Linked DNA regions of Homo sapiens: regions 2 and 3 are each linked to region 1. The links come from fine-mapping of genetic effects on gene expression. A gene starts in region 1. Each other region holds a variant in brackets. All regions are shown on one strand. Distances are between the middles of the regions.

What was found. PIP is the estimated chance that this variant, and not a neighbour inherited with it, causes the effect.
Region 2: its variant is fine-mapped to the expression of TRABD2A in whole blood (TOPMed, PIP above 0.99).
Region 3: its variant is fine-mapped to the expression of TRABD2A in whole blood (TOPMed, PIP above 0.99).

Annotation. Positions count from the first base shown.
Region 1 is chr2:84,877,442-84,885,714 of GRCh38, reverse strand. TRABD2A (TraB domain containing 2A) reads left to right here and starts at 4,631. Exons shown (of 7, transcript NM_001277053.2): 1 at 4,631-4,783. The coding sequence starts at 4,676. RefSeq lists a silencer at 4,527-4,656 and enhancers at 4,386-4,886, 4,887-5,389.
Region 2 is chr2:84,828,309-84,836,581 of GRCh38, reverse strand. It overlaps TRABD2A (TraB domain containing 2A), which reads left to right. Exons shown (of 7, transcript NM_001277053.2): 5 at 4,437-4,527. Among named protein-coding and RNA genes, the nearest start is that of TRABD2A, 49 kb to the left of the region's middle. The variant C/T (reference allele first, on the strand shown) is at 4,501.
Region 3 is chr2:84,571,466-84,579,465 of GRCh38, reverse strand. It overlaps DNAH6 (dynein axonemal heavy chain 6), which reads right to left. Exons shown (of 77, transcript NM_001370.2): 12 at 5,879-5,999; 13 at 2,058-2,209. Among named protein-coding and RNA genes, the nearest start is that of DNAH6, 59 kb to the right of the region's middle. The variant G/A (reference allele first, on the strand shown) is at 3,346.

The DNA.
Region 1 (8,273 bases):
CGATTTAAAGACTTTATCTTCAAATACAGTCACATTCTGAAGCACTAGGGGTTAGGGGATTAATGTATGAATTTTGGGGGATCTTAATTTATCCCCAAATAGAATCTTAACGTATCTCATCTATGAGGTGGGAGAAATGAATGGAGGTGAAAACTGGCCTTGGTAAAGGAGCAGCCATCACTCCTTAGTCAGAAGAGGCGGATGACTGGACACCCTTTCTTGTGACTTGGCCAATGTTCATGTTTTGTCTGTGTTGAGATGTGATTATGGAGGGGTTTTGCTTTCATCTTCATTCATCACAGAGTGGCCTTGTCTGATGTTGATGCTCTGTGAAGTTGTTTATGTTCAACAGGAGAACACCATGGCTTAGCTGTGAGTGCCAGGCCAGCTTGTAGCAACACCAAGGCCTGACTGATAAAACCAGACCAGTTCCCAGCTGTCCAGGGATGTTTTCTCTTTTTCACAATCTGGTACAAGCAGTGTGCTGCAAAGCAAATGCAGCTTTGGCATACTTGCCACTCTTTCCTACTTAGAAATTCTTGTGCCAACACTGGGTGGGCGAGGGAGTGTGGCAACATTCAGCCCCTTTCCAAGAATGCACGGAGCCTGCACACCTGGCAGTGGAGGGAGTAGGTGTTTCCACACCTCCATCAACTTAGGTCTTCAACTGCTCACCTTGAGGACGGACACAGCCTGCTGGCCGAGCACCATGCTGGAACTCCTGGGAATGTGCTTAGCATCCCACTTCCCCTGGTGTATTAGTTATCTATTGCTGCTGCAACAAATTACCACAAACCTGGTGGCTTAAAACAGCACACATTTATTTTCCCAGTTGCTTTGGATCAGGAGTGTAGACAGAGCTTAATTGAGTCCTCTGCTTAGGGTCTCACAAGGCTACAGTCAGGGTGTTGTTGGCTAGGACTGGATTTTCATTGGAGGCTCAACTGGAGAGGGATCTGCTCCTGAGCTCTCTTAGGTTGTTGGCAGAATTCATGTCTTCATGAATTCTGTAGGTCTCATGGCAACTTGCTTAGCAATGGAGAGAGAGATTTTCACTGCTTCTGAACCTTCCCCTAGTCCTTTCTCTTTCCCCTTTCATGTATGGTTGATATTCTTGGCAACTCTCCCATATTAGTCCATTTTGTGCTGCTATAGAAGAATAGCACAGACTGGGTCATTTATAAGTAACAGAATGCATTTCCTTACAGTTCTGGAGGCTGGGAAAGATAGCAATGGAGAGAGAGACTTTAGCAAGACTAGCAGTACATGTTTATGTAGTCATGTACAAGTAATCACAGCACTGCCCATGACCTTTGCCGTATTTCATTGTTAGAAGCAAGTCTCAGGTTCTGGTTACAATAAAGGACAGGGTATGAAACATAAGTGTGAATATCAGGAGGCAGAATCAAGGGGAACTGCCACCACACCTCTGATGTCCCGATCACCTCTGGAAATCTGTGGATGACTGCAGGTCAGCCAAGCCAGGTAGAAAAAGGCAGGGTGAAGGCACAGAGTGTTGCTGAAGCCATAGCAAATCCTCTGCATACTCTGAAAACTTTATTTTTGAGGGTAAATCTGATTTTGGGGAAAGAGCAAAAAGGTATCAGCAGTATAATTTTCTCAGGTACTGCTATGAAGGGGACAAGCCTCACAGGTTTGTGTAAATTCAGAAAGTCATTACTAGGGGCACAAAAGAAGCACTTAAGAGTAGATGGACCTAAGCGGATGCTATACTTTGAAGGTGTCCTCCAAAAGCATATGTTGGAAACTTAATCCCTAATGCAACAGTGTTGGGAGCTGGGACATCATGGGAGGGCTTTACCCTCATGACCTCATGAATGGCTTGAGGATGACTTTAGCTCTCAATCTCGATTTTTCTCTCTTTCTCACTCTCTTGTGCTCTCACCTTCCACAGTGGGATGATGCAGTAAGGAGGCCCTTGCCAGATGCTAGGCACCTTGATCTCAGATTTTCCAGCCTCCAGAACTGTAAGGAAATACATTTCTGTTCTTTATAAATGACCCAGTCTGTGGTATTCTTCTATAGCAGCACAAAATGGACTAATATGGGAGGGTTGCCAAGGATATCAACCATACATGAAAGGGGAAAGAGAAAGGACCAGGGAAGGTTCAGAAGCAATTCAGGGCTCTGGCAATGGGCAGCCAGAGGTATGATCCAGTAACAAAGCTGAAGTTAAGGAGCTAAACTTGATACAGAAACTCGGCAGATAAGCAGAGAGGAGGACATGGGTACATTTAACATCTCCTTCCTAACCAGGAAGGGAAAGGCAGAAAGGCCTGCAACCCAGATGTCTGTATAAGGCAAGTGAGGACCAGGCCATGTCAGCCTGTCACCAGGTCTGGGTCAGCACTGTGGGATGATAGTGAACTTAGGAATGTCTGTGGAAACATGTAAGTAGAGTAGATGTGATTCTATAGAATATTCGGACACTGAGTGTCTTACAGAATAAATCCTACTTGATGATGGGTCTGGCTAAGAGAAAAAACAAAACGAAACAAAGCAACAACAGCAACAAAAAAAACACTTCATTTAAAAACTGTCAGAATCAAACAAAATTATCTAGGTACTTTGGATATGGATATGATATTTCATACTCAGTATCTGACCATATGCTGAGCCATAAAACAAGTCCCAATAAATTCAAAATAATCAAAATCATACAGAGTATGTTTTCTGTTTACAACAGAATTGGATTATAAATCTGTTGATATTGCAAAAACCACAATTACTTTTGCACCAACCTAATATTTAGGACAATTCCATAGTTTGGAAATCAATCAACCTACTTCTAAATAATCCACGGGCAAAGAAGAAAATCACCAGGGAAAGTAGATAATGAAAGATAATGAAATACAGTTTTTCAAAATTTGGGTGATGTAGCTAAAGCAGTGCTTATAGGGAAATTTATAACTTTAAATGCTTATATTACAAAAGCAAGAAGACTTAAAGTCAATGACTTAAGGTACCACCTTAAGAATCCAGAAAAAAAGCAAAGTAAACCCAAAAGTAAACAAACAGAAGGAAATAACAAAGATAAGAGCAGAAACCAACGAAATAAAAGAGAGACAAACAACAGGAGAAAATAAACAAATTCAGCCATGTTTTGTGTGGCCAGAGAGAAGCCCAGCTCAGAGAGAAGCTGGGCGGGCTTCTCTGTGGCCACACGGATTGATTCATTTGGAGTGGGAGAGATAACATGAAATAATAGGTAATTACATCCTTTTGAGTTTTTTGTTTTGTTTTGTTTTGTTTTATTTTAAATAAGAGACAGGGTCTCACTTTGTGGCCCAGGCTGGAGTGCAGTGGTTCGATCTTAGCTCAGGGCAACTTACGTTCTTGATGCTTTTTGCTTTTCCCCCTCACAACCGAAAGAGAAAGTTTTTGCCAGCAGGTGGCAGCGCTGGTGCCTGAAAACGCCAAAAAGCATCGTCCTGGGTTGGCCCGGAGACTAACGATTGCCGCCGGGCTGACACGGGGCAGTCATCTGAAGACAGGAGACAGTCAATTCCAGAAAGCAAATCCCCACTCAAACTTAGAAAAAAGCGATTTTACAAAAACATCTGAACTCTAAATGTTGGTGGAGTTAAATCTCGAAAGACTTGGCTCTTCAAAGCCAGGGGTTCTTTACGGGAAAGTTGGAAATGGGCTTCAGAAAACCTCTCCCCGCATTGTATGCAAATCTGCCCCCCCCCTTTTCTTTTTCCCTGGGAGATCGTCCAGTTATCAGATTCTCAAAATGGACAGCGACTTAAAGCAATTAAAGACCACTGCGACAAATGCTCCTGCGAACACCACTCCGAAGTTAATGGCGCAGACGTCTGGACTTTAAAAGGTGGTGGTAAAGTGCGCTCAGGCATGGGTAGGAGGTGCGGCAGGCGGGGCACAGCTACTTGCTTTCATAATTTTTTTTTCTTCCTGATGGACCAATGCTGTGAAAAATCCTCAGTGGGGTTTTGGAGCCGAAAGGGAGCGACTGCAGTTTGCAGGCTTGCTATGTGTGCCAATCAAGGTGTTTCTCATAAATTTCCTCTTTTAATCCTTGCGGCAATCCTCTGAGTTCGGTGTTAACATCCTTAATATTATTCCTAAAAATCCATTAAGAGGGCTCTTAATGGAGTGCCAGCTTTTGTGGTCCTGGATTTTCAGTGGATGCACACACTGACCATTCCCCTCTCTCTTTTACATTCAAAACTTCCGTGAGATTTCCTTTGTTTAAATGAACTTTCCTTTATAGATAGCCTTTCATTTGTTTATTTTGTCTGCCTCTTTCAATCAAGAGGCACCCTCCCCTCACAATCGGCAGCATAAGCACAGACGTAAACGCAGGAACCAATGCGATTTTAGGTTGAATTTAGGACAGCGCTGGAACTTCACTTTACCCCTCTTGCGGTCACACGAGGTGGGCGGCGGCCCCGGCAGGGTTTGGGCGGGAGAAACGCGGTTCGGGACTCCGCTGCCGCCTAGGCGCGGGGCTGACCTGCGGGGGTGGGGTGGGGGGAGGGAGGTCGAGGCCCGGCCCCACGTGGCCGCTGCTGCCGGGCTCACCCCAGCCCCGCCCGGAGGCGCCCCGCGGCCCCGGCTAGCCAGGGCGGGCGGCCACCTCTGCCCTACTCCTTCCCTCCGCGTTCCGGGCCTCGGAGCCGCCTTGAGGAGGATGAGTCCCTGGAGCTGGTTCCTGCTGCAGACCCTCTGCCTCCTGCCCACGGGCGCAGCTTCGCGGCGCGGGGCGCCCGGCACCGCCAACTGCGAGCTCAAGCCCCAAGTAAGGCGCGCGTCGGGTGCTGGAGAGCCGGCCTCTCTGCACCTCCTTGGGATGGTTTCCCTCCGAACCCCGCGAAGCAGCGCTTTCGGACCCCGAGCCGACTTCCGCGGCTGGGCTTTCACCTAGCACCGCGGCGCTCCTTGCTCGCTCTCCTCTCCGTGCCCTCGGGTTCCCCTTTCCCGCGGGGGCGCAGCCCGCAGGCTCCAAGCGACTCAGTGCCCTGGCCTTTGCCCTCCGCCAGCCCAAGGGCGTCCGAGAGAGCCTCTGGGGTCTCGCCAGCCATTTTCGCGAGCTTTCGGGGGACGGATCCGCCAGGGAGTACCGGACCAGGAACTTGGGCACATTTATTTGAAGTTTCTTCTTCCCTCTCTTCCTTAAGAGTTTAATTTCACCTGCTCTTATCAAAATATTAACAGCGCCCTGAAGCTGCTTGGCTTAACCTTCATATGTTCAGTGCCTGAGTTAGAAGGGACTTTAGGGAGTTGAAGCCATTTCCCTTGTTTTTACCGATCTGGGAAACTGACACTCAGCGGGGGACCTGTGTGCTCCAGGTCACAGAGTGCGTTCGCGGAGTGACCACTGTCCGAGCCTTGCGTGTCCAGCCGGGCGCTTTAGATGTTCGCATCAACGTTTTGTGGGTGAGGGAAACCCAGGCAAGGGAGGCTCAGTGACCTGCCCGAGTCAACACAGCTCTATAGCGGACAGGTCTTGCGTCTCCGAGGCTGGACCTCTTTCGAGATGAATATTTCCTTCTCTGATCAGTTTTCCTACACTCAGAATTTTCTGTGGTTCTCGAGTCCCTCTCTTCTGAGTGCGGCATAGGTTGAATTTCGCGCATTTGTTCCGGTGGGTTTGATATCTGTGCGTCCCTGGCTCTGGAGAGGGCCATGCCAGGCTTATCCTTCTGGTGCGCCCGCGACGCGGGGGTGGGGGGGGTTGGGGGTGGGTTGAGGGAGTGGGGGCTGGAATTTAGAGGCCCACCTTTGATGACACCTGCGCAGCTCCCCGGTCTGCCTCCACCCCTGGCCATTCGCAATTTTATTCCTCATCCCAACTGCAGCAAAGCAGAGGACGGCCAAATAGAGCCGATCCTGGAGCTCCGGGCTGGGAAGACGCACGGTGTTCGCCTCTGTAAGGCGTCGCGGGGCTGCGGACGGCCCTCTACCAAGGCAGGAGGCGCGGCAGCTGGAGAGGGGAGTCTGCACCAGGCATGGTTTCAAACTCTGTTGCGGTGTGGCCGCTTCATGCTTGTTAGACAAGGCAGGAGTCCATCTCCTCACAAGAAAGCACATTGCCTTTCACTTCTGCAAAACCTATTACCGACTGGTAATTATGACGAGTGAGTCTGGATAAGATCTCTCTCCTTTAGAATCTGTCTTTATGAGTCCTTTATTCCATCGTCCTACCTTTTGGTCTCAGGACTCCTTTACGTTACAAAAAATTATCAAAGAAGCCCGGCATGGTAGCTCACTCCTGTAATCCCAGCACTTTGGGAGGCCAAGGCGGTGGATCACTTGAGCCCAGGAGTTGCAGACCAGCCTGGCCAACATGGCGAGACCCTTGTCTCTACAAAAAAATAAAAAAAATTACCAGCGTGGGGACATGTGCCTGCAGTCCCAGCTACTCCAGAGACTGAGGTGGAAGGAAACCTTGAGCCTGGGAGTGGAGGCCAGTGAGGTGTGATTGTGCCACTGCACTCCAGCTTGGGTGAAAGAGCGAGACCCTATATCCAAAAAAAAAAAAAAAAAAGTATTGAAAACCTCAAAGACTTTTACTTTATGTGAATTAATGGAGATAGTAGTAAAACACAACATAGCACACATTCCATTAGCCATCAGAGCAGTGACCTCATCACACACATGTAGCCTCCAGAAAATTCTACAGTACCTTGTGAGAAAATGAGGGTGAAAGGAAAATATCTTAGTTTTATAAAAACAGTTTTGACCTTATAGACTCCCTGAAAGGCTCTTGGGGACACCCACAGGTCCCTGGACCATACTTTGAGAATTGCTGTTCTATTCTGTGGGCAAACTCTGTCTTACCCCCTGCGGAATTGGGAAGGCCAATCAGCGGCACACATGCTGTATGTCTGACCCACATGCTGTAAGGGCATTGTGGTTGGGTTCCTCAGTGGGTTGGGGTCTTGAGATTCTAGAGTGGAAGTCCTGGGATCCAGCCTCCAATCCAGTGCAGCAGCCCCTATAGGATTCTGCAGGACTGTAGCCTTGAGAGCTGGTTTGGTTTTCATGGTTGGTTAATCATTAGAGAGGTCTTCTGAGCCCAAATTGGCCCCTAGACACTGCAGGGTTTACCCTGAGCACCACGCAGGTTGAGTCTCTTTCTTGTCAAACAGAACTCTTAGTGTTCTTTCCTATTCCTGCCTGCTGCCTTTTTTTTTTTTTTGAGACAGAGTCTTGCTCTATCTGTCACCCAGGCTAGAGTGCAGTGATGCTACATTGGCTCACTGCAACCTCTGCCTCCAGGGTTCAAGTGATTCTCCTGCCTCAGCCTCCTGAGCAGCTGGGATTACAGGCGCCCACCACCAAGCCCGGCTAATTTTTGTATTTTTAGTAGAGATGGGGTTCCACTATCTTGAGCAGGCTGGTCTCGAACTCCTGACCTCATGATCCACCCGCCTCAGCCTCCCAAAGTGCTGGGATTATAGGCGTGAGCCACCGTGTCCAGCCTGATGCCTTTTATACTTGCTCTTTCTTCCCCCTGGGAAATTCTCCCCTCATTTATCCACAGGCTTGCTCCCTTACCTCCATCTGGCTTTGGCTCAAGCGTCTCTCAATGAGTTTCTTCCTGATTACTCTCGTAAAGGTGACATCAACTGCTGCCACCACTACCATCTGCCTTCCCTGCTTTATTTTTATTTATAGCACTTAATCACCATCTGATAAAAATTTTTGTTTATTGCTGCCCCTTCCCCTATGTCATCTTCATAAGGGTAGGGATTTTTGTCTGTTTTGTTTGCTTCTGCATCCCCAGTATCCAGAAGAGTGCCTTGCCATAGCAGATGCTCAAAAAATATTTGTTGAATGAAAAGGATAATGTAAAGCCAGCTTCATTGTGGCTGGTCTGCTGAAGAGTAATCTTGGAAAAGTGCAGTTATTGCAGGTCCAGGGATGCTAGGATGGGAGGAGCTGAGGGTGTGCTGGGTGTTACGGAGTTAGCTTGCAATATGCAGTTGTCATTGTGCCTTGTTCTTTTTCACTGGATGGACTACACAGGTGTCTGTTAAAATCTCAGTTTGATTCAGAAGCTTGTAGCTTCTGTGTCTCAGTCACCCATGGCCATGTTTTCTCTCTCTCTTTTTTCTTTTTTGAGACACAGTCCTGCTCTGTCACCCAGGATGGAGGGCAGTGTCGTGATCATAGCTCATTGTAACCTTCAACTCCAGGCCTCAAATGGTCCTCCTGCCTCAGCTTCCCAAAGTCTTGGGATTACAGGCATGAGCCACCATGCCCGGTTGTCTTTTCCTTCTGGG
Region 2 (8,273 bases), 49 kb after region 1:
TTTGATGAAAAATATTACTCTGCACATTCAACCCATGAACTATAAGTTGTATAAAATCAAAAAGTTTCACACCAAGGCGTGTCATAGCCAAACTGTCAAAAGCCAAAGACACAGAATCTTGAAAGCAGTGAGAGCAAAGCAGACAAGGGATCCCCAATAGGATTAACAGCAGATTTCTCATCAGAAGCCATGCAAGCCAGAAGGCTATGGGAGACATACTCAAAATGCTGAAATAAAAGACTGTCAACAAACATTTCCACATCCAGCAAAAATCAAAAACGAAGGAGAAATCTGTTGCATGTGAGCTGAATAGAATTTGTATTCTGCTGTTGTTGGATGAAGTATTCTTTAAATGTCAATTAGATCAATTTGATTGATGATGCTCTTCAGTTCAACTATATTCCCTATCTGATAATTCCAGAATCTCTATCATGTCTGAGTCTGGGTCTGATGCTTTCATTGTTTCTTCAGATTGTGATTTTTCTTGCCTCCCAGTGTGACTTGTAATTTTTAATTGAAAGCTGGATATGATGTATTTGGCAATGGGAAGTGAGGGAAATATGTTTTTAGTGTGAGGGTTTATGTTAATCTTTCTCAGAGTTGGGCTGTTTAATGTTTTGCTGTGGTCTGAATGTTCCTTAAAACTTGTGTGTTGAAACTTAATTATTATTGTCATGGTATTAAGAGGTGGGGCCTTTGGGAAGTGATTAAGACATGAAGGCTCCACATTCATGAGTGGATTCATGCTTTTTAAAAGGACTGGAGGAAAGTAGTGTAGGCTATTTTTTTGCCCTTGTGCCTTCCACCATGTGAAGATATAGCATTAGCCCCTCCTGCCATGTAAAGACTCAGGAAGAAGGCCCTCAGCTGGACATGGTGGTGCATGCCTGTAATCCCAGCACCTTGGGAGGCCATGGCAGGAGGATCACTTGAGCTCAGGAGTTTGAGACCAGCCTGGTCAACACAGTGAGACCTCATCTCTACAAAAATTAAATAAAAATTTAGCTAGGCATAGTGATGTGTGCCTGTAGTCCCAGCTACTTGGGAAGCTGAGGTGGGAGGATCACTTGAGCCCTGGAGGTCGAGGCTGAAGTGAGCTGTGAACATGCCACTGCACTCCAGCCTGTGTGACAGAGTAAGACTCTCTGTATTAAAAAAAAAAAAGGCTCTCACTGGGCACTGAATGCCTATGCCTAGATTTTGGACTTCCCAGCCTCTAGAACTGTGAGAAATAAATTTCTATTGCTTATAAATGACCCAGTCTGTGGTATTTTGTAACAGCAACACAGACTAAGGCATGTTTGCTGTAACTCTAGGTCCCAGAGGCTTCAGTTTCCTCTAGTGACCTCTAGTTTTTCCTCTAGTATTTTTTGTCTTGTGCTTTCTTAAGAACCTTCTTAAATAGAGTCTGAGTCTTGCTGCACTTTCACATATAATCCACTGTTATTTTACTGGAGTCCTATTGTTGTGGTGCTAAAGTGAAGATACCATTTCATACTCACTAGGCTATAATAAAAAAGATGGAGAGTAAAAAGTTTTGGTGAAGACATGGAGAAATTGGCACCCTCATACATTGCTACTGGGAATTTAAAATGGTGTAGCCATTTTGGAAAACTGTTTAGCAGTTTTTAAAAATTAAACATGGGGCTACCATTTGATTCAGCATTTCAACTTCCAGATATATGCCTAGGAGAATTGAAAACATATGTCCACACGAAAATTTGTACACAGATGTTCATGGCAGCATTATTTATAATAGCCAAAAAGTGGAACCAATCCAACTATCCATCAACTGACATGGATAAATAAAAGGTGATATATACACACAAATGGAATACTATTTGGCCATAAAAAGGAAAGAGGTACTGATATATGGTACTACATGGATGAACTTTGAAAACATTATGCTAAGTGAAAACAGCCAGTCACAAAATCATATGATTATATTTATATGAAATGTCCAGAACAGGCAAATCTATAGAGACAGAAAGTATTCATAGATTAGTGGTTGCCAGGGGCTGGGGTCAAAACGATGAAAATGTTTTAAAATTAGATAGTGGTCATGATTGCATGATTTTCTGAATATACAGAAAAAATCACCGACTGGCATACGTTAAAAGGATGAATTTTATGTTATGTGAATTATATTCAAATATTAATAAAACTGTTATAGAAATATAAGGGGTTTGGCTCCCACATTATGCTCATTGAAAAGTTCTGCCACAAACAAACTGCAGTTTGTGCCCTCAGCAATGCCCGTGAGTATGTGGTAGTTTTCTTCTTCTGTAAGTCCTGTGTTTCATGTCTGGATTGGGCACCGTGTGCACATTTGTACTGTCTCAACAAATGGCTTCTTGGAACAAAGCTGTTAGCCTGGGCCTCACTCTTGAGGCACCGTAACAGTGGTGCAGACCCCAGATGAGAAAGTTAGGAAACAGAGCCAGTGGTGGTGTCCCAATGCACCACCCCGGGTCTGTGTGGATGGAAGGTGCCCAGGTGCTGGAGTGTGGGCTTCTGCTTTCCACCCCTGCCAGACTTAGGTGAGCTCCCAAAAACTTCCCGTATGTCCCGTGGCAGGGGTAATGGGGCGCTGGGGAGAGGGGAAAGGTCGACTGGGTTCTGGGCTGGTGGGAGGCTGGGGCACAGCTTGGTCTGAGCAGTTCGGTGGGTGGGCCCTCGTGGTGGGGGTTCTGCCAGGCAGGTGGAACAGGCAACACCAACACCTGAGCTTGCCCAGTACTCAGGGCTTGATTTGTCATACTGATGCAGGGCTAGATTGGGGCTGACAGCCCCTGGGCACTCCTGATGCCCGAAGTGCCCAGGGGCTGTGAGCCCCCATCTAGCACTGGCTCCTTCTAAGGCAAAGTTATATTCCTGTAGCTGCTTTCTCTCTGTGCCTTCTGAAGGCTAAGTTGAACAGAGGAAACTACAGAAATTGCTCCGAAACACATTACCGTGTGCTTTTAAAACTTAAAAGCTGTGTGGTTAGCAAACTTTTAATTGCAAAATGAGGATAACTGAAAATGGAAAGTACTGGAGTTTTAAAATCAAGCAGCGACTTTTGTCATGGGGATCTGGATATAAAATGCGAAGATTAGAAATGGAAATCACCTTTGCAGTAGAAGAAAAATTGAAGTCAGAAGTGCTAAGTGGAAACTATAATCACTTGTTCTAAATTGCCAGTTCCTTATTTGCAAATGAATAACCTAGGATCAGTGGTGAAAGACATGACTTTTTTTCTTATTTAGGTGTCGATCTTAAATCAGCTCATGCTGATTTTTGGCTCCTGTTTGCCAGGGTTACTTCTCCAGTGGCCTCCTCTCCTACCCCACATTTCTAGGTTACAGCTATCGCCCCTGCACTGGCAGCTGTCTAGGCTGGTCTAGGCTGTGGGGAGGAGAGGGGAGGATGGGAGGGAATGGTTTTGCCAAACTTCCCTTTCTGAGCCCCTGCTGACCCATGAACACCCCCTTTGATGCATGAGGGTGAAAATGAAAGCAGGAACCATGGGCCTTCTGCTTCCTTCTCGGGGCCTATTTGCTGTACTGCCGCAGGCTCCCAGGGTTCCCTGGTTGTGACTCCTGAGACTACAGTGGGTTTGTCCTATGCAGAAACCTCCAAGAATGACAGATCTTAGATTAGGTTGCCTTTACTTTTTCTAGAAAGTGGTGATTGGGAAGTAGCCATTCCTTCCGTCCCACCAGCCTCCCTGTTTTTTCAGAGAGCACAATTGCATTCCATCCTGTAGTTGGGAATTCCCCCCCCTCCTTTTTTTTTTAATTGAGACAGAGTCTTGCTCTGTCACCCAGGCTGGAATGCAGTGGCATGATCTCGGCTCACTGCAACCTCTGCCTCCCGGGTTCAAGTGATTCTCCTGCCTCAGCCTCTCAAGTAGCTGGGATTACAGGTGCCTGCCACCATGCCCGGCTAATTTTTGTATTTTTAGTAGAGATGGGGTTTAACCATGTTGGCCAGGTGGGTCTTGAACTCCTGACTTCAGGTGATCCACCCGCCTCGGCCTCCCAAAGTGCTGGGATTACAGGTGTGAGCCACTGTGCTCAGCTTGAATTCTTGTATTTTCTCCAGACCAGTGTCCTCACCTTTCAGGATCCTGCTCACATATCACCTCTTCTGGGAGGTCTTACCAGGTTGCAGTTTGATGTCCAGGCTATCCCCTTAGCTTTGTGACTTCAGGTAACTTGCTGCATTGTTCTGATCTTCAGTGTCATTGTCTCTGAAATGCTACTGATGCTGCCCTGCCTGCCTTGCAGGACTGTTGGCAGGCCTGATTCCAGAAGCTCTCTAGAACTGTACTGTGCTGGACAGATAGGCAGGGGGCTTGGCAGGGTAATTTCTTGGTTCTAGGGTGTGTGTTTGGGGAGTATGTTTGGTGGTCCTGAGAGCTGCAGCATTTCAGGTTGTTTTTCTCACTGCAGGTCATTTCATGGGCAACAACACAGTGCTGGATGTTTTGCGGCGTGAAGGCTATGAGGTAGAACA[C/T]GCCCCTGCTGGACGACCCATCCACAAGTAACCGTCCTGTGCTTCTATCTTGGCTGGGGAGCTGAGACCCTCATGGGGCTGCCTGGGCACCAGGGTGGGCTGCTATCTTGAGGAGCTCCAGAGAACCCCTGCCTCGTCATTTCCCCCACACTTGACCTTACATGGACATTTGGCACCAGCTCAGCTGGCTCTGTGTGGCTGGGGCTGTGTCAGACGTGGTTGGCAGGATGGACACTTTGGGCTGCAGGGGCCACACTGGCGTTTTCCTCAGTGGTGTTTGGCAAGCGGGGGAAGGTGAAGGGAAGGTTGCCCAGGGGTTGAGGGGTAGGGGAAAGGAGGAGTAATTAGGCTTAATGCCCAGTGTCCTTTGCCCTAGGTGTTTTGGAAGTTTTCGGGAGGCAAAATCGGGCCATGACAGTGGTAAACAGGCCAGAGGGGTTAGGGGTGCAGGGAGTGCATGTCTCACCCTTCTCAGGGGCAGGAGAAAGCACCTTTTCTCTGAGCTGTTTCCTCCTCCCTAGGTTTATTTCTCTCTCTTTTTTTTTTTTGGCCAAACTGCCCTCTGCCCTTTCAGACCTTTCTGTAAAGAACTCAGGAGGCCCAGCCCCCAGCCCTCAGCAATGCTGTCCACCCACTGGCCTCCCAACTGGTCGTCCATCCTGGTGGGCCCCAGGTGTCCTTCCCCTTCCCCTGTAGTAGTCTGTTTGGGCTGTCATAACAACAACCACAGACTGAGTGATTTAATCAACAGAAATGCATTTCTCACAGTTCTGGAGGCTGAAAGTCCCAGATCAAGGTGTCAACGGGACTGGTTTCTCTTGGGACCTCTTTGTTTGGCTTGTAGATGGCCGCCTTCTCTTCCTGCCGGCACATGGCATTTTTTTTTTCTGTAAGCGAGCATCCCTGGCCTCTCTTCTACTAAGGACACTAGTCCTATTGGACTAGGGCCCTCATGTGAACTGAATCACCTCTTTAAAGGCCCTAACTCCAAATGGTCACATTCTGAGGTACTGGGGATGGGGCTTCAACATGTGAATGTGGGGGGCACACATCAGCCCCTAATATCCCCTCCATTCCTCTGGCCCCCACTGCCTCCCGATCTGTGGTCAGCAGCCCCCTCTCCTGGCAGAGGTCTCAGCTGTAGCGAGAGAGTTCCAGGATGCAAATGCCCATCCCCTGGCAGAGGATCCAGCAGTTGTGTCTGCCCGAAGGCCGCCCATCTCCAGCTGCCCTCTTTCTCCTCAGAAGGCCCCCCTTCACTGCACCTTGTCTCCCTGTTCCCCCTCACCCCAGAGGCTCCTGCCAGTCTCCCTTCAGGCGGGAAATCCTGGATACATCCTGGACTTCTCTCATCCCCACCTGTCTTCATGCCCTGTATTCAGTATGTCAATACTGACCGCCCTTCACAGAGCACTTTCTAGTTTACAGAAGCGCTGATGTGAGACTGCTCATTTTCCTTCTCCACCAGGCTTTTGGCTTCCTCCACTAAAGACTCGCTGGGATTTGTCCTTCTCCATTTCCATGGCCACCGCCCCCTTCCAGGCCCTTCTCCCTCTGGTTCACTCTTCGCCCTTCTGTGGGACTATTCTTTCCAGTGTCCTATATTCAAACCCTCCGTGGTTTCATGTTGTTCTTTTTCAAGGTCATTGTCTTCACGCGGAGGTCTTGGCACTCAGACCCTACCCTTCCAGCATGGATCTGCTGCTTGCTTCAGAAGAGCCTCCATCCCGTCCCCGCCTCTCCTTTACTGACGCTACTTCCCCCTTCTGAGGAGCCCTCCTCTCCTCCCCTTGACCGGGAGGATCCCGCCCCTGCCTGAGTCAGCTCTGTTGCAGGCTCACGTCTCCTGCCTCTCTCCTTCCTGTTCTCCTGCAGGTCTGGAGGAGCCAGCCCTTAGGGGTTCTCTGCGCCCTGCAGGACTGTGGGTCTTTCCTCCCTCACTGGCCTCTGGTCCCTTCTCAGCTCTTCCCGCTGGGCTGACTGGCCTGGGGTTCAACGCACTGTCCTTAGGGTGCTGGAGAGGGCCCTACCTGGGGAGTGTGTACGTGTGTGTGGTGTAATGTGTGTGGAGTATGTAATGTTTGTGTTTGTGTGTGTCTGGTGTGTGGTGTGTGTGAGGGGTGTGTTGTGTGTGATGTTTGTGTGTAGGGTTTGTGTGGTGTGTATCTAGTGTGGAATATGTGTGGGGTGTATGTGTGTGTGTGTAGTGTGCATGTGTATGGTGTGTGTGTGGTGCATGTCTGGTATGTGTGTTGTTTGGTACCTGTGTGTGAGGGGTGTGTGTGGTATGTGGGGTGTGTGTGGTGTAGTGTGGATGTGTGTGGAACATGGCTGGTGTGTGCATGTGTGGGTACTGTGCATGTGTGTGGTGCATGTTTGGTGTGTGTGTTGTGTGTATGTGTGTGGGGTATGTGTGCTGCATGTCTGATGTGTGTGTTGTGTACGTGTGGGGTTTGCGTTGTGTTGTGGTGTGTGTGGTACGTGTGTTGTGTGTGTACAGTGTGGTACGTGTGGTGTGTATGGTATGTGTGGTGTGTGTATTGTGTATGTGTGTGGGGTATGTGTGGTGCATGTCTGATGTGTGAGTTGTGTATGTGTGGGGTGTGCATTGTGGTATGTGTGGTGTGTGTGGTACGTGTGTTTTGTGTGTGTGTAGTGTGTGTGGTATGTGTGGTGTGTGTGGTGTGTGTGTGTGTGTGTGTGTGTGTGTGTGTGTGTTGCTGGTTGTTCCCAGGCTCCCTAATTCTGCCTCTAACCCTGACACCTGCCCTTGGGGAAAGGAAGGTCAGGAATCCGTCTTTTTAGAAGCTCTCTAGGAGATTCCGATGCCCAGTGAAGGCTGAGAACAAGTGTTCTCACTTCCCCGGGGAGAAAAAGAGCATTTATTGGTGGATCATCAGGTGGTAGCCAGGTTTATATGGGCTCTCTGTTAATTCTCAAAACCAGCCCGCAAGGGAAGTGTTCCTTCTCATTTACTAACGAAGAAACTGTGAAAGGCCACACTATTAACCAGGACCAGGAAATAGCACAGACCCCTCCACCTCCCAAACCTTTTCTTTCTACCCTTTCTTCTCCCACCTTTTACTTCCTAGCCTCTGTCTTTGTTCGTGCAGTTTCCTCTGCCAGAGATCCTTTCCCTACCCACACTACCCCCAGTTCTCTCTATCAGAATCTGTGAGATCCAGCACAATTGCCACATCTTCCTCCATTGCTCCAGCCTGGGTTCATCCTGTGCATGACCCCAAGGAACCTATGGTTTGTGCAAGAGCTCTCTCTTTCTTCTAGAGCCTTCCGGACAAGGATCTAATTTTCAAAATTGGATTTCCAGGAGTACCTATCCTGGCATCTGGCACATGATGGGATCTCAAATAGGATTGATTATGTGTTAATATCATTGCTGGTACTGCTCACATGCATTCATTTATTCAGCCAGTGGGGGACCTGAGAGGTTTTAGGGGTGAACGTGCATACAGTGGTCCCAGGTGAAGCCATGAGGGAGGATGAGGTCTCCAAAGGAGCTCCTGTTCAGGAAGAAGGGACAGGGTCCCGGGAGGCTAAGGGCCCAGGGAAGTGGGTTGGGGAGAATGCCCACAAAGAGGGGCTGGCAAGGAGGACCAGGGCAGTGGAGGGATACCTGTTTCCTTCTTCCCCTCCTCGGCAGCCATCTGGTAGTCCTTAAGGGATGATTCTGGTCATGTGGAACTTGAATCCAGGGCAGGCTGGTGTGGCTGGGGACATGAGGGCTGTTAAGTGGTGATTTAGCTTACTTAAGG
Region 3 (8,000 bases), 310 kb after region 1:
CAGACAAATCCTAATTGGATTTGTTAAATCAGCAGGCATTGGAAGCAGCAGTGAATACGAAGAGACTTTTTTTCTCTTTAAATCACTGCTAGTTAAATGAGCCAACAGGAAGGCCAGGTTTTGAAGATCATTTCCACAGCTTACCAAAAATTTTCCCTAAATGCTCTAATATTTTGCAAGTATGCTTTCTGCTTCTTTGTCCTATGTAGTGGACATTGTGCTGCCCTGTCCAGCATCAGTCCCACTCCTTTCATGTTGGGCGCTAGCCATGCAGTTTGGGGGAATTTGATCTCTCCTTCAGAAACAAATATGCAGTCTGACTGATGACTTGGCAAATAGGAACATGGCTTTTTTGGCCAAACTGATCAGATTAAGATTTTCACGCTACTATAAAGAACTGCCCGAGACTGGGTAATTTATAAAGGAAACAAGTTTAATTGACTCACAGTTCAGCATGGCTGGGGAGGCTTCAGGAAACTTACAATCATGGCAGAAGGTGAAGGGGGAAGCAAGGCACCTTCTTCACAAGGCAGCAGGAAGAAGTATGTGAGAGTGCAGGAAAAACCACGATTTATAAAACCATCAGATCTTGTGAGAATTCACTTACTGTCAGGAGAACAGCATAGGGGAAACCACCCCCATAATCCAATCACTTTCTATCAGGTTCCTCCCTTTACACCTGGGGATTACAATTCAAGGTGGGATTTGGGTGGGCACACAAATCTAAACCATATCAAGTGTGAACCTCTGACTTTAGTTGATTCAATCAGATAAAGGCCCACACTTTTATTTATGGCTGAGAGAGACGTGTACTCAGAACCCCAGGCTTTCTCTGTCTCTCTCCATACAAACAAATAATTGGCTTGTGGAGCTTTTGACAATCACTTTACAAATGCCTTAGGATGAAGCCTGCACATAAGGAGGCTCAGGAAAGAGAAAGAAATAATTGGTTCCTTGGTAACACCACTGAGCCACTAGATCATACCTCCTTGATATCGACCCAATCTCTGGACTTTTTAGATACATATGCCAATAACTCTCCTGATTGCTTAAGCCAGCTTGAGTTCAGTTTTCTTGGGCTTACAGTAAATACATATCCAAGTATTTCTTGAGCATACAGTAGCTAAAAAGTGCTTGTTGAAATTGAATTAAATTTGCTCCAATTATATACATAATTATATATATATTTCTTTTTTTTACCAGATGAAGAAGCAAAACTCTAGAAGGAAGCCCAATGCCATACAATTAATTAATAACAGAAAATACTAGCACTCAGGTCTGCACTCTTTTTTATACAGTGCTCTATCTTCTATCATCTACCAGGGGCCAGAAAATGTTTTCTATAAGGGCCAGATAGTAAATATTTTAGATTTGCAGTCAATACAGTCTCTGTCACAACTACTAAACTTTGTCCTTGTAGGAAGAAAGCAGCCATAGATGATATGTAAACCATTGTCATGGCTGTGTTCTGATAAAACTGTATACAAAACAAGAGGCAGGCTGGGTTGGCTCTGTGGGCTATAGTTTTCCAATTCCTGTTTTATATCATTGTCTTTCTGTGGGCATTGGGAAGACACAAGTATACTCTGGCTCCAAAGGAAATTATTGTATTGGTTCTGAAACTTATTACAGAAATTTCCCTAGTTCTATAACTTACCAAAACATAATCAGACCTGTAGGGACAATTCCAGATCAGAAAATGATTTCCTAAACTTGATCTCGGTGGTCTAGAATCAACCATCACTCCCTCTAGGATATTGAGCTGTTATGGTAGTATCCTCTCTGCAGGTCTTGAAATGCTCCGACAATGGAAAAAGGAGTAGGAGCAAGAGGCCAGTGTGAGGCCTGCAGTCCCCTCCATTATCTCATCTAAAAAGCTGATTATGCTTGTGACAAAAAGACTATAGAGCTTTTCTTAGAAATTAAGGATGTCCAATAGTCTTATGTTAATTTTTATATTTGCAATACTATAAAATAAATACTAGGTTTTTGTGCAGTAGAAAAATCATAAAATAATTGTAGAGGAATAATTATTTTTTTTTCTAGTTTATAGTTACCTCTAAGCATCGCAAAGGTGATGGAATTAATTTTTCTCTTAGAAGCCTAGTATCAATGAGCAGCAATCCTACATTTCTGGTGGGTCTGAGCGCTACTGCGTCCTTGTGCTGTTTGTGATATTTTTCCAGTTGTTCACTAAAAAAGTTAATATCTACATAAAAAAATTCACATAAAGCATAAAATATACCATATTGGATTTTAAAAGATCATTACAAAATATATTAAAAATCATTGCATTGATAAATTTACACATATATGTATAATGTTATTATCTGTACTTAGAGTATCTCATGTAACTTTAAAATGCTAATTGGATTGCTTTATAGGATTTTATTCTTGTGATAAAGAAACTAATATTTTATAATGTAAATATGTCTTCTGGCTCCTATGAAGAGATGACAGATGAAAATAACTTGTAAGTGCATTAGAGAATCTAGTCTGGAATTGACTAGATTTCAGAGTTAGGTTGGTTTCAAGTTGGGATTAATCTAAATGTTCTCTCCCACATGGTGTCTCAAAGTAAAGCATTTTGAGAATATAAACAACAACAAAATTTGAAATATAAGAGATCACACATAGCTAAAATTATCTCTGTTTCTCTTCCCAACACATCTCTCTGCCATTCCTGCACCCTACATCATGGTCAAGGCCTTTGTCAATTTGCATATGCTGCAGTTGCATTTTGATAATCTTCTTGCCTCCATTTCCTCCCTCATCCAATCCATCTGGAACCAATGGAAACCTCATTATCCTTGAATATACTCTCATCATACTATCAGTCAAAAATAGCTCTCTCTCTAATGCATATACAGTTCTAAACTTCTCTGCTTGTCTTTCAAAATTCTGTACCCTCTGGGCCTCTAAAAATTTAGCTAATTTTATTTCTAATTACCTCCTACATTTGGGTCAAATTGATTTCCTTACTGTCTGCCCTTTTTCCTCCTTCCATAATCTTCCTCCACCACCCCAAAGAGAAAGGGGTGCTGTTTCCTGCCTTTATTCATGCCATCTCCTCTCCTAATTATAAGGGGTAGTTTGATATAGTATAAAGAACACACCAGAGAAAGTATTGGAAGACCTGAGCTCAGGTCTTTAACCCATGTGTGGCCTTGGGAAAGTTACTTAGTCTTTCCGAGCTTCAGCTTCCTCATAATATAAGACAGAAACAGCAATTACCTCCCTTACTCACTTCAGAAGGTTTTGATTTGTGTATTTTTGAAAGCCGACTAAATTAAGATGTTAAATGATCTGATAAGTCGTATGGTAAGGATACCCGTATAATGCTGC[G/A]CTGTTTAGTATTTTCCAAATTTATTTGAGCACCATCTTTTTTCATGGTATCATGTAATTATCCCTCAGAACAGTGCCAATGAACACAACTTTGGGAACCATTTATTTGGTCCAAAACTCTTATTTCATAGATAGAGAAATTGAGGTCATATGACTTGGCTATGGCCACATAGCCAAAAAGGAATAAAAGATTAAAGCCGATAGTTGAGAAATACGATTTCTTTCTCCTTTTTTTTTGAGACGGAGTCTTGCACTGTCGCCCAGGCTGGAGTGCAGCGGCGCGATCTCGGCTCACTGCAAGCTCCGCCTCCTGGGTTCACACCATTCTCCTGCCTCAGCCCCTGGAGTAGCTGGGACCACAGGCCCCCGCCACCACACCCGGCTAATTTTTTGTACTTTTAGTAGAGACGGGGTTTCACCATGTTAGCCAGGATGGTCTCAATCTCCTGACCTCGTGATCCCCCCGCCTCGGCCTCCCAAAGTTCTGGGATTACAGGCGTGAGCCACCGCGGAGAGGCAGTACGTAAAACGGTTAAGCAGACAAGCTTTCAAGTCAGAGAAATTAGATCTAAACTGCTCACTAGCTGTTTAATCCTGAGGTTGCCTTATCTCTATAGATCTCTGTTTTCCTTTTATAAAATGGTAATACTAATACTCTCCTCAGAATTGTGAGGATTGGATGAAATGTCTAAATATTACTTAGAACAGTATCTATCATGCTGTAAGTGCTCAGTAAAGTGTAGAAATTATTAGTAAATGCTGACATTTATAGGAACTTGGTGGTGAGATGTGGCTGCTTGTCAGGAAGCCAGAACCTATCTGCTGGTCGTTCTCTGAGGCAGGACAGGGAGCAGTCTGGCTAAAAGTTCAGTTAGACATTTATTAAGGATCTACAATATGTGCTAAGCAATGTTGTAGTCGTTTGAGGATATCAAATAACAGGTAAGGTTGATATCCAAGGGCAAAGCCCACCTCTATAACCCTCTGGCAAACAACTGGATTTAGTGGTTTAGGACGTACTGGGGGTTCCAAACAGAGGAGGAGCACAGAGGTTAGGAGTCCAGGCCAAGGTACTCCAAAGTCGCAGCCATCAGAGTGTTGGGACTGGGAGACCTGGTTCCAGGATTGGGTTTCAAAGGCAGGACTGGCAAGACAAGATAGGACTAGCTGAAGAGCAACCTGGGAGTCAGGGGACTGCATGCTGATGGGAACTTGCTGAGGGATCACAGTTATCCAACGTGAGGACTGTGGTAGCAGGAGGCTAGGAAGCCTTGGGCTCAGGATATGAGTAGAAGAGCTCAGGGATTAGAACTGGCTATTTTGATCAGGCCTCCTTCTTGTGCCAAAATTCCAGGCTCCATACCCTGCTGCCACTGTGATGCCATGACATAGCACAGGAGGCATCATGTCCTCACGTCCCTGTCGGTATGCTTCTGTTCAGCACACACTAAGTCTCCATGTGATAGTGTTGTCAAAGAACAGTGGAAGTAGGCTTGTCTAAATTTTGTTTTCTAAATTGGGGCCACATTTTGGTCTAACGACTTAGTATCTTGAAAAAAAGGAGTCAGTTTCAGATTTTTAAAATTTAAGGGACATAACAATCAGATACAATGACTGATCTTGGACTTGATCCCTGGCCAAATCATCTGGAAGCTGCTTTACTTGAGGAATTTTGAAAATGGAATAAGTTAAGATATTAAGGAATTGCTATTTCGGTGGAGGATGATACTATTTTCATTCTGTAGAAACATGTTTTAGAGATGCATATTGAATTATTTAACTTAAGAATACTTCAGCATAGTAAACAATAAGGAATTGAAAGAAAAACATAAAAACATAAAGAAAAAATTAGTGCTGGTTCATAGAGCAAAGTATCAATGTAATTGTAATTATATTTATATATAAGAAAATAAAGGAAGCTCATGAAATAAAAAAGAATATGAAAGACATGCATCATGATTTAAAATAGCAAACAAATATACTTATTTTTTATAATTTTCTGAGAACTTGCTTGCCTGAAATTGCACTTGGATATTGTAGATTATCTTCTATTGTTAAAGACAGTGAAATAAAACAGTTTTCTCCTAGGTCTTATTTCATGACTAAGAGTTGTTGATTCACACCCACCAGATCTTAATGTAGTCCCAGAAGAAAAAAGAATAAGTTCCTGAGATAGAAAAGCTTATGTAAACTTTATTTAATGGAATTGGTAGAGGTATCCATTCCTTTCAACAACTTCTCATATGCAGGCTATATACTCTTAGCACTGATACAACTTTAAACTAAATGATAAGCGATTAGGAAGGAATTGCTTTCCATAATATCCTGAAATAAAAGTAATACTGAATAAGGAGAAAGGAAAAAAGTGATTCTATAGAAAATAACCTAGAAATGAATTAACTCTTGCCTTATGTCAGGCCAACTCTTTTGGGCTACCATTTGTGTCCCCAGACACCACCAAACAGAATCCTAAAAAACAACAAATCTCAGTATCCCTATAAAAATAATTAGTAAGTACAAATGGACAAGTTACCAGGTTCCTGAAGTTTAAGAGCTTGTAAATCAAGACTTTCATTTTCCTTGAAGAATATCTGGAACTTTTCAAAGGTAGCTGCATAGATGCGGGCTGATTCAAATGCGGCCTGAATGGTTTCCTAAATGTTATAAATAAGCAGACAAATATGACCATATTTTTGTTAAGCAGAATTTAATTCAATACAACTAAACAAAGAAACAAGCAAGCACACAAACTCTATGCCCAATAGTATGTTTTGATTTGGGAAACATGAATGAAGAAAGATATATTCTTGATGTCGAGGAGTAATTGATGGATTCAAGAAGAAATTGTTATGAAATAAAAAAAATTCATCTTTAAACCTGACTTTTGAAGAATTATTCCTGTGACTGAAAGGAAACACAATTTGTTTCTGCTTCATGGTGAACTTATATATTGCTAGTAAACATATGGCAAAGAGGCAATACTTGTTTATTTTCCCAACTGCATATTTTATGTCACTGTGTTTTTAAGCAAAGGCAAACCTGTTTAGCATGCCCAGAAAATCACTTGCTTAATCTTACTATCAAATCTTTGGCATTGGCCAGTCTCTTACTCCAAAATATCCTTCATACTTTGCCATAATAAAAACTTTTTCTTCACCCCTCTTAAACTTGGTTCTAACCCATATTTCCCCACAAAGTTTTTTTAAACCAAGACAACGATTTCCAATCACTTCAGTCCCTTTAATAACTGTGTCAAGATATATTATTATATGTTCAAAGTCTATGAAAGGCAGTTAGGATTCACTTGCTGTTGGTCTTGGTCCATGTCTACTTGGCTGTGCTCCACACCTTTTCCTTGTGTTTTCTACTAAGACTTGTAAAAGTCTGCAATTTGTCCCAGGAAAACTAGAGGTGACCAATGGAATTGCACAAATCCAACACACCAATGCTAGGGAAAGTGACTCAGTTATGCCTTGTGGTAGTAGAAAATTTAATTACAAAGAATAGCACACACCCTGTATGTTTACATTTAGTTATTTGTTCATTTATTTTAATAGGCTTTTATGAATATTCCAGAATGTTTCTGCTGTTTCTTCTTTATAATAAACATTGAAAAAAAACTTTATCAAACTATGTTTCCTTTGAACGGACTAAATAGTATCTCTCATATGTCATCATGCAGGTGCTAGAAACAATATAAGGCTTGTAAATGGAAAGCCCCACCGATGTTCAAAATATGATTTCAAAACATTTTTATTTTGAAACAATGTATGATTCACAAGAGTGTTACTGGAATAGTACAAAGAACTGCATATCTCTGTCACCAAAATTCCCTAAACTTCAACAATTTATCATATTTACTTTATAAGTCTGTCTATATACACATATTATTATACTCTGAACCATTTGGGAGAAAGTTACAGACATGTGGCACATTGACCCCTAAATATTTCAGGGGTTACTTACTAAACACAAGGACATTTTCTTACATAACCACAGTATAATGGTCCAAATCAGGAAATTAACATGGATATTAATACTGCTATCTAATTACCGACCTCATACAAATTCTACCATTTGTTCCAGTAATGAATTTCATAGTAAAAGGAAAAAACATTTTTTGTTCTGGTCTACTTTTCTACCTAGGATCATGTATTGCATCTTTTCATCTTTTTGGTTTTCTTTTTTCTTTTTTTTCTTTTTGAGACAGAGTCTCTCTCTGTCACCCAGGCTGGAGTGCAGTGGTGCCATCTCGGCTTGCTGCAACCTCCACCTCTCGGGCTCAAGCAATTCTCCGTCTCAGTCTCCTGGGTAGCTGGGATTACAGGCGCCCGCCACCACGCTAATTTTTTTTTTTTTTTTTGTAATTTTAGTAGAGATGGGGTTTCACAGTCTTGGCCAGGCTGCTCTTGAACTCCTGACCTTGTGATCCGCCCACCTAGGCCTCCCAAAGTGTTGGAATTACAGGCGTGAGCCACTGCGCCTGGATGGTTTTCTTTAATGTGGGACAATATCTCAATCTTTCTTTGCCTTGCATGACCTTCACATTTTTTAAAGGTATCTCAGTTGTGTGTATATGTGCATGTGTGTGTTTTATATTTCCTCATGATTAGACTCAGATTTAAATTTTTGGCAGTAATGCTACATAAGTGATG